Regions from separate parts of the Homo sapiens genome. Here region 2 is linked to region 1. The links come from fine-mapping of genetic effects on gene expression. A gene starts in region 1. The other region holds a variant in brackets. All regions are shown on one strand. Distances are from middle to middle. Region 1 holds the start of KALRN (kalirin RhoGEF kinase). Region 2 overlaps KALRN (kalirin RhoGEF kinase).

The links. PIP is the estimated chance that this variant, and not a neighbour inherited with it, causes the effect. A credible set is the group of variants that fine-mapping cannot tell apart.
Region 2: its variant is the best candidate, but not a certain one, in a credible set for the expression of KALRN in nasal epithelium (TOPMed, PIP 0.88).

Annotation. Positions count from the first base shown.
Region 1 is chr3:124,030,908-124,035,293 of GRCh38, reverse strand. KALRN (kalirin RhoGEF kinase) reads right to left here and starts at 1,925. Exons shown (of 60, transcript NM_001388419.1): 1 at 1,481-1,925. The coding sequence starts at 1,553. RefSeq lists a silencer at 1,950-2,409.
Region 2 is chr3:124,602,615-124,607,000 of GRCh38, reverse strand. The region is part of intron 34 of KALRN (kalirin RhoGEF kinase); the gene reads right to left. Among named protein-coding and RNA genes, the nearest start is that of UMPS, 130 kb to the left of the region's middle. The variant T/C (reference allele first, on the strand shown) is at 2,070.

The DNA.
Region 1 (4,386 bases):
AGATTCCACCTCTTTAGAATCCATGCTTTTGGGTGCTGGGCTGTGTGTGTATGAGAGAGAGAGAGAGAAGAAAGAAAATAGAATCCATGTCTCGGAAGAGGAAGGAGGGAAGGAAGGAGGAAGAAAGAAAAGGAAAGAAGGCTTAGACCTGGGAAGCAGAATAGAATGACAGGGCTCCCTCTGATTTCCCCAGACCCTGGCACCAGCTCCTGTCCTCCAGTTTTTTCCTCTGCACATCAACTAGAGAATGAACATATGAGCCAATCAAGTCTTGACTTCCAAAGCCACAAGTCTCCCCCGCAAAGCACCCCACCCCCTTCCCTAGAGATGACCTCCAGGGCAAGGTAACAGGGTTAGGAAACAGATGGATGTGCAGAGACCCTCCAGAGCTAACCTGACCCCTGACCCCCACCAGTTCATGTCCTCTAATCCAACTTTCCAGAAGGGAGAGCAGATGCATGGGGCCCCGGTAACTTACTGGACTCCTTGGGACAAAGATTCCAGACAAAACTGTTTCAGACATGTGGGGAGATGGGGAGCTACACACAGAAGCTGGTGGAAGCCACAGGTACAGGGAGACGGGGAATCCCTGGCCATCAGAGAAACAGGGCCACAGGTGGTGGAAGATAAGGGTGGTCAGTGCCGGTTCTAGGGAGGGACTGTGTAGCCAGGGAGCAGGAGGAGCAATGGACCCGGGACTTGGACGATGGCAGGGGCGCAAAGAGCTAGAAAGACATCTCAGGGCTCTACACCTCACAGCAAGCAGAGACTTAGTGGGTGTGTATGAGAGGGACGCTAACTCACACTTCCAGGAATGAGTAATTCTTATGAATAGCTCCTCCGTTCCCAGAACTGAAGAGGAGGACAAGGGGGAGGTCCGAGGCGCCCACCGCCCTCCCAGCTGGGTCTGCCTCTCAAGTCAGAGGGACCAGCTCCCCACACGCACCAGGCGAGACCGATGTCTTCCGCCCCACTCCTGTCAGTCTGCAGCCGGCGCGGCTCCGGGTCCCCGCCGCCCCTCTGTGCACATCAGGGCCCCGGGCCCCCGACGGCGAGGAGGGGTGCCGACCCAGGGCGGCCGCCGGGAGCCCCGCTGACAGGCACAGGGGAGGGGGAGCCAAGGGAGGGGCCGGGACGCCGGTAGCCGGAGCGGCGCGCTGCAAAGTGAGCCAACACCGCCCATCCCCGCGCTCTGGGAGAAGGCGGTCCGAGGGGACCGCCTCCCACCTCCCCAACACAGACTCCCGCAACTGGGGTGAAGGCGGAGGGGCGCGGAGTTCCCAGCCCCCACGCCCTCCCCAGACGCAGCCAGCACTGCCATAACAACCAGAATCTCGGCAACTCCAGCCCCGACGCCGAGGGGGCACTGCCCCCCAACACGCACGCGGCAGCAACAGCCCTCCTTCCCCAAACTTGTCCGAGACGCCGCGTCCGAGGCAGTAGCCTTCAGCCCTGGCCCCCCGCGCCCTGCCCGGCTTACCTGTCCGGAAAAAGGCGTCCACGTCCGAGTCTGCTGCTCCTCCTTCCTCCGCTGCTCCCTCAGGGGGGTTCATGACTGTGGGAGGGCGTCCGCGGGCAGCCGGGAGCCGAAGAAGCCTGGGGCCGAGGGCTGCTCGGCGCCCGGTGGGCGGAGGGCGCGGGGCGCAGCTGCTGCGGCCGCAGAGCTGGCGGCCGCGGAGCTTCGAGGGCGGGCGTTGGGCGGCGGGGCTGGGGCAGAGGACGCTGAGCCTCCCTCAGGCGGAGGCGCGCGGCGGGCTGGGGGTGCCTGCCGCCAGCTCCCCCATGGTACCCCTTCCCCAGGGCGCTGGCCGCCTGCTGTCTGGCTGGGGCCGGGGCCCGGGGCCGGGGTGCGGGCTGCCTGGGCGCCCGCTGTCCCCCAGCAGCGGCAGCTGGCTCTCCTGCTCGCCCGTCTGCCTGTCTCTATTGTTCAGCCCTGCTCCGCTCTCTCCTCTTTATTTTTCCTCCTCCCTCCCACCCTCCCTGTCTCCCTACCTCCTCCCTCCCTCGCTCACTCGCTCACTCGCTACCTCCCTCCTTCGCTCGCTCGCTCTCTAGCTCCCCCTCTGGCTCCCGCCGCCGCCGCCGCCGCAGCAGCCGCCTCCCCAGCTCCTCCCCCGGCTCCCGCTCCCTCAGTCCCGGCCAACAATGACCCCGGGAGCGCCGAGCTGAATTGAAGCTCCGGCCGGGGCCGAGGGCTCGCTGCGGGCCCCCGGCGGCGCCTACGCCCCCAGTCCCAGCGGCCCCGCGCCGGCCTCCCGGGGAGCGGAGCCCGAGTCCCGAGCTATTGTTCGAGGCTGTGCTAGGCCGGCTTCCTGAGCTCCGCAGGAAAAGCCCGGGCCAGGGAGGGGGCGGGGCCGCCGGGCGAGCCCGGGGCTGCAGGGCACACGCCAGGCTTGTCCAGGGGGCTCTGCGGCCCGGGCGCTGCGCGCTCAGCTTCTCCGCTCGCGCCGCCGGTGCTCCTCCCGGCCCCGCGGCCACCTCCTCCGTCCACTCCACTCCCAGGTGTGTGAGGGGACCACCAGGCTGCCCGCCCGCCTTCTCTGGATCTTCAGATCGGTCTCCAAGCTGGACTGACCTGTCCCTAGAGGCCGGCCTTTCTTCCCCTCCTTCCTGACGAGCTCTCTTCTGTCTCCCTGCCCTCCTGAGCCTCTCACATTTTCCTCACCAGCTCGCCACAGTTTCTCTCCTTTTTATCTTTTCTCGTCCTTTTCCCCTTTTCAGCGCCCCTTTAAACATCTCCGCCTGTCTCTGTGACTCTTTGTCCAGTTTAATGCTCCTGTGATGTCTCCCTGCCTATCTCTCCCTCCCTCCGTCACTCTCTTGTCCCTCGTTTGTCTCTGTCCTGCCTCCGTACTTGGCCCGTATCTCCGCGCTCCTCTTGGACAGCTGTCAAAACTCTCTAATCCCTGGGGCCTTCTCGGTTTTGTTCTCCCTCATGTGAATGGAGAGATCCAGTTGGCCAGGAGGAAGGAGGTGTTACAGCAAGCTGAATTTCAATTAAAGTGGGGAGAGGGGCTGGGGAGGAATGGGGATGGCTGCAAAAAAGAAAACAGATGCTGTATGGGGTAATTAATGCGGTGATTGTATTGTGCCCATCAGTTTTTAAGCAATAATTAAACAATAATTAGCCAGTAGTGTGTTTATGGTTCTAGTGACTACAGAGCCCACCAAACAGAGGGTCTTTAAGACCTGAGTACTTAATAAGGTCTGCTGAGCGCTGTTCGCTGTTGCCTCATCCAGACAGATGGAGAAGTGGTGGCCTGACCTAATGTGTTAAAACACGCCTAATAGGAAAACCAGGTACTGGTCTGAAGTTAATGACTGCAACCCATCAGACAGAATCTCCTGGATCTGTTTGTCTCTAGTAACCTGTTTGGTTCCACCTCTCTCTGGGGGCCAAGGCAACTGGGGCCTATGCAGATCCACCAACTGTGTAAACTTGTAGCAAATAAAATGAATTAAATTAGTTTTTAGTGAACACTTTCTGGCTCCCTGTACGCATCACGTTCTTCACTGACACAAACAGTCTAATTTTTTTTCACCCATTAAAAAAAAGTACCTGTTTCCAACCTTGGATACACCTATCAGACCTGTCTCCAACCTTGAGTACATCTATCAGACCTCTGTAGTGACTCTGACATCACAAGTTCACTGCCCTGAGATCTAATTCATCTGGCCCTAGTATCTTGAACTGGCTTAAGATGCCCCTTTGCCTATGCCTTTTCTGACAATGAAAATACTTCTCATTTGTCTTTTCAAAATCTTCCTTCCCCTTAATCCTTTGCCTAACCCCTGGTCTGCTCCCCTACCCCCGCACACACATATGTGATGGCAGAGCTGCTATTAATTAATTGCCACCATTGTGCAGCTAAAGAACCAGTGGCCTGGCAAGGCATTAGCTCATCACAATTCAGAAGAAACATTACATGTTTAGAGGAAGGGTCATATCAAAATCTCAAGATATAGACAAGAAAGGGGGAACACCTTATGTAATGACACAAACTTTTTTTGAGAGGAAATTTGGCAACTTCTATTAAAATGTTAAGTGTTCATGGCTATATTAATATCAAAGAAGACTTCAAAGCAAAGAATATTACCAGGGATAAAGAGGAACATTTCAATTCATCAAGCAGACGTAACAATCCTAAGAGTGTTTGCACCTAATAAGATAGCTTCAAAGTACATGAAGCAAAACTGATAGGATTGCAAGGAGAAATATAAAAATTTATAATTATAGTCAGATAATTTAATATCTGTAAAATGCAGTAATTAATAGAATAAGGAGACAGATCATCAGTAAAGATATGGAAGACTTGAACAATGTTATCAACCAACCTAACCTAACTGACATTTATAGAATATTCCACTCCATAACAGCAGATACAC
Region 2 (4,386 bases), 570 kb before region 1:
TGAAGAAAGAGAATCAATTTATGTTCCCATGAGTGGATGAATATCTATTTGGCCTTACCTATAATTTTGCCAATCTGAAGGGTGAAACATAATCTTATCGTTTTTATTTGAATTTTTGATTACTAGATGTTATCTTTTGAAAAGTTTATTGCCTTTTAAAAAGTCTTACATCTTCATCGCTTTTGCCCTTTTTTAAAATATTGGGTTAATTAGCTTTTTTCTTAATTTATAAGAACTCTTCATACATTCTGGGTCTTAATCTTTTATCTATTAGGCAGGTTACACGCATTTTCTCCTAGTCCATCATTTGTTTTAACTTCCTTTATAGTGTCTTTACATTTGCCTGAAATCCTTCTGAAATTTATTTTTATGTATAATGAGATCTGTGGATATAATTTACCTGACTTTAACGTTAAGAAAAACATTTTAAAGTAGAAACTTCAAAGAACCTCTGCTTTATATTTGTCTTTTATGGTTCTCATATTTTATAAATCAAATTTATGGTATTTTTAAGGAGACAGGACTATAAGAAAGGATTAAGAAGAAGCCTTGCCACACATCACATGGCCTGGGCGTTTTCATAGCTAAGTGAATGCTGCAAGCTATGCCAGCACTGAGCTTGTCAGACATGTGAGATTTTGGGCTCTAGCTCTTGGGCAGTTTCCAAGGTCCTTTGGGTCACCAATGAGGACTCCCATCTAAGAGAGGAGACACTCCAGTCTAAGTATCATGCAAGGCCAAAGGAATGCCCCAAATGAGAACAATATAATTGCCCCGAAGTATAATTCCTCTTGTACACAAACTCCAATCAATGTGATTTTATTTCTCTCTGTGTTTTCTGAAACTGTGAGCTTAAGTTTCAGTATGCTTAAGTTCAATAAAATTTGCTGAACAGATGCATGACTATGTTAAGTCAAGTCTTTAAGCTATTCATGATGGGGATAAATCAGAGAAAGTCAGCAGTGGACTGAAATGATAAAGGAGGGTGAAGTTGGTGGTTAATCAGAAGTAGGTTTTCCAATCAAGCCTCCCTCTTGGAAGAGATGCAAAAAGCTGCGGCAAGCATTACATTTTGATGTGTGTGTTGGGATAGAGGGGATTTCACTCGTGTAATGGAAGGGGTGGTGATGGAGGCAGATCCAAGTGCTACTCCGTTCTTGTTTATTTTGACGAATCACACTGCCATGGGTGAAGCACAGCAGCTTAAAAACCTGGGTGTACATGCATATTTATTAGATATATGACACCAAAACCCCTACAGTACTAAAGCTCTATAATCAGGGGGACAGAACCAATATCCAAGGCAGGTCTATGGAGCTTCAAAGTCTATATTCTTACACAGTTTTGGGCCCCATTTGGATACAGGACCACAGTGGGATGAAACTATCTTAATGCACCTATTCTCTCTCTCTCTTTTTTTTTTTTTTTTAGATGGAGTCCCATTTCTTCGCCCAGGCTGGAGTGCAATAGCGTGATCTCAGCTCACTGCAACCTCCGCCTGCTGGGTTCAAGCAATTCTCCTGCCTCAGCCTCCCAAGTACCTGGGATTACAGACATGTGCCACCATGCCTGGCTAATTTTTGTACTTTTAGTAGAGATGGGGTTTCACCATGTTGGCCAGGCTGGTCTTGAACTCCTGACCTCAAGTGATCCACCTGCCTCTTAGCCTCCCAAAGTGCTGGGATTACAGGCATGAGCCACTGCATCCAGCCAATGCACCTATTATCTCTATAACCACACACAGAAAGGAATTTAGGCCAGATGTGCTGGCTCATGCCTGTAATCTCAGAACTTTGGGAGGCCGAGGCAGGAGGATCCCTTGAGGCCAGGAGTTCAAGACCAGCCTGGGCAACAGAGTGAGACCCTGTGCAGTGCAATAGCGTGATCTCAGCTCACTTCAACTTTCGCCTCCTGGGCTCAAGTGATCTTCCCACCTCAGCCTCCTGAGTAGCTGGGACTATAGGTGCACACCAGCATGCCTGGCTAATTTTTGTATATATATATTTTTTGTAGAGATGAGGTTTTGCCATGTTGCTCAGGCTGGTTTGGAACCCCTGGCTTAGGCAATC[T/C]GCACACCTTGGCCTCCCAAAGTGCTGGAATTACAAGCATGAGCTACTGCACCCGGCCTAATTTTTTTTTTTTTTTAATTAGCCAGGCATGATGGCACATCCTTGTGGTCCCACCTACTCAGGAGGCTGAGACAAGAGGATCGCTTGAGTGCAGTAGTTTGAGGCTGCAGTGAGCTATGATCGTACCACTGCATTCCAGTCTGGGTGACAGAGTGAGACCCTGTCTCTAAAATAATTAGTTAATAATTAAAAATTTTAAACGAAATTAAAAAACATCTAGTTCAAATTTTGAATCAGGAAAAACTCTGAAAAATTCTAACCCAATAGAATGGAAATTACATAGTAATCACTATTATTCCCCTTAGTGGAATAATTTATTTTAAGGATCATAAAAATATTTATAGGGCTTTCATGAGCTCATCTCCAACCTTCGTTTCCCAAACTATTTTCCACCATTAAGCACCTTAACTTTCAATTCTATGATCACAAGGTTATAAAGAAACAACCTTTGTGGTTTGGGAAGAGCAATATAGTCCAACAGCAGCACCAAGAGTGGCTCTTTTCAGGCTCGATGCATAACTTCCACATCCTCACTCTGGAGAATACACTATCCAAGGCATAGAGAAAGCTTAAAAAACATGAAAGCATTGGGAGATATACCTAATGCTAGATGACGAGTTAGTGGGTGCGCGCATCAGCATGGCACATGTATACATATGTAACTAACCTGCACAATGTGCACATGTACCCTAAAACTTAAAGTATAATAATAAATTTAAAAAAAAAAAACGTGAAAGCAGTCCTGACCATCTATTTGTTCAGAGTTCTTACTTTGTGGGGGTTTTGGGTCTACCACCCATGTTTCACCCCAACTGTTTCAGAGAAGGGATCTCTCGGTGATAGAATCCAAGTCCAAAGCATGCAACACAGAATCACATGTGTGAGCTGATGTTGTTCACTCTCTTTATCCTAGTGATGGCTCTGAGAATGACCTTCTCAAATAAGATCACCAGGCTCCATCTGAAGCAGTTTTTCTAGCCTGGTATAATGTATTATTCTAGAGAGGTGGGAGGGCATAGTTAGATACTATAAGGTAAAAACACCTTCATTCTCCCCCTTTTGCCCCCATCAAGTTCAAAGTCAAAATGAGGCAACCTTTACTTTAAGGCAAAGGAACCCAATAGACTAGCATATGGGAATATTGACTTTCTCTGAGACAGAACCTCAAAGCAAGGACACACATTTTTAATATCCATGCTCGTGGGAGAGTTGTGGGGAGAGATGCTCCATTTCAAAAATTGACTGGGTCTCTCCCTATAGGTCAGACACAGCTTGGCCTTTGGGCTACTATCCTCTGGGGAAGTCGACACCTGCATATTGGCATGACCTGTAGGGAGAGCCAGGGACAGGAAGGAAGAATAGCTGAGGAACATCTCAAGCAGAGCCACACTTCAGTTGCCTGAATCAACAGGTGGGCTCCGGGAGGTAAAATCCACAAGGAGAGGTCTGTGAATTTTAAGGAAGGATTCAGGAGTGTTGCCATACGGAGCAAGAAAATTAAGTGAATCAATTAGAGGCTGCCAAGGCTACCAGGAGGAGGCAGGTAGAAGGAGATAGATATCTGGGAGGGCTTTGAAGACTAGAAACAGCCTCCTCCGGAGAGTCAATACTATTTTAGGAGACAAACAAGTGTGACTGTGGTTAAAGATAATCACAGTCAGATGCTGGCAAAGGTAGACAAACATTTCCAGGCCTCTGCTATTTAGGGTATAAAAGTCTGTGTGTGTATGCCAGGCAATGCTTGTGTTAAGAGCTTTGGCGGCAGAGGGTTTACATATGCAAATAAAAATAATACCCCACAAGAAAAGGCTGCTTCTGGAAGTGCTAACCCATCCCATGGTTTCAGGCACATGATGTGAAATTGCACTAGATTCCACTGTAGTAATTAAAAGACAAAACAAAAACAAAACAAAACAACAACAAAAAAAAAACCACGAAAACTGGAATTAACTGGGGCCAGCAGAGTAAGTGAGAAGAAACCAGGACTGAACACACAAACTAAGTACTCTTGGGAGAATCATTTAATCTCTCTAAGCCTCAGCTTTGTCATTTGTGAAACATATAGGCTGACTCCCAAAAGCTGAAGACCTAAGGATGCTACAGTCACACACCTGTTCATCGTTACCATGGATATTCCATTCCTATCCAGGTCTCTATGTCCTTCCTGGTGCCATTTTCTTTGCCTAACTTAGATGGAGTATATCCCTCCTGACCCTTTAAGACCCAGCCCTGTGTCACTTTTCCACAAGGCCTCCCC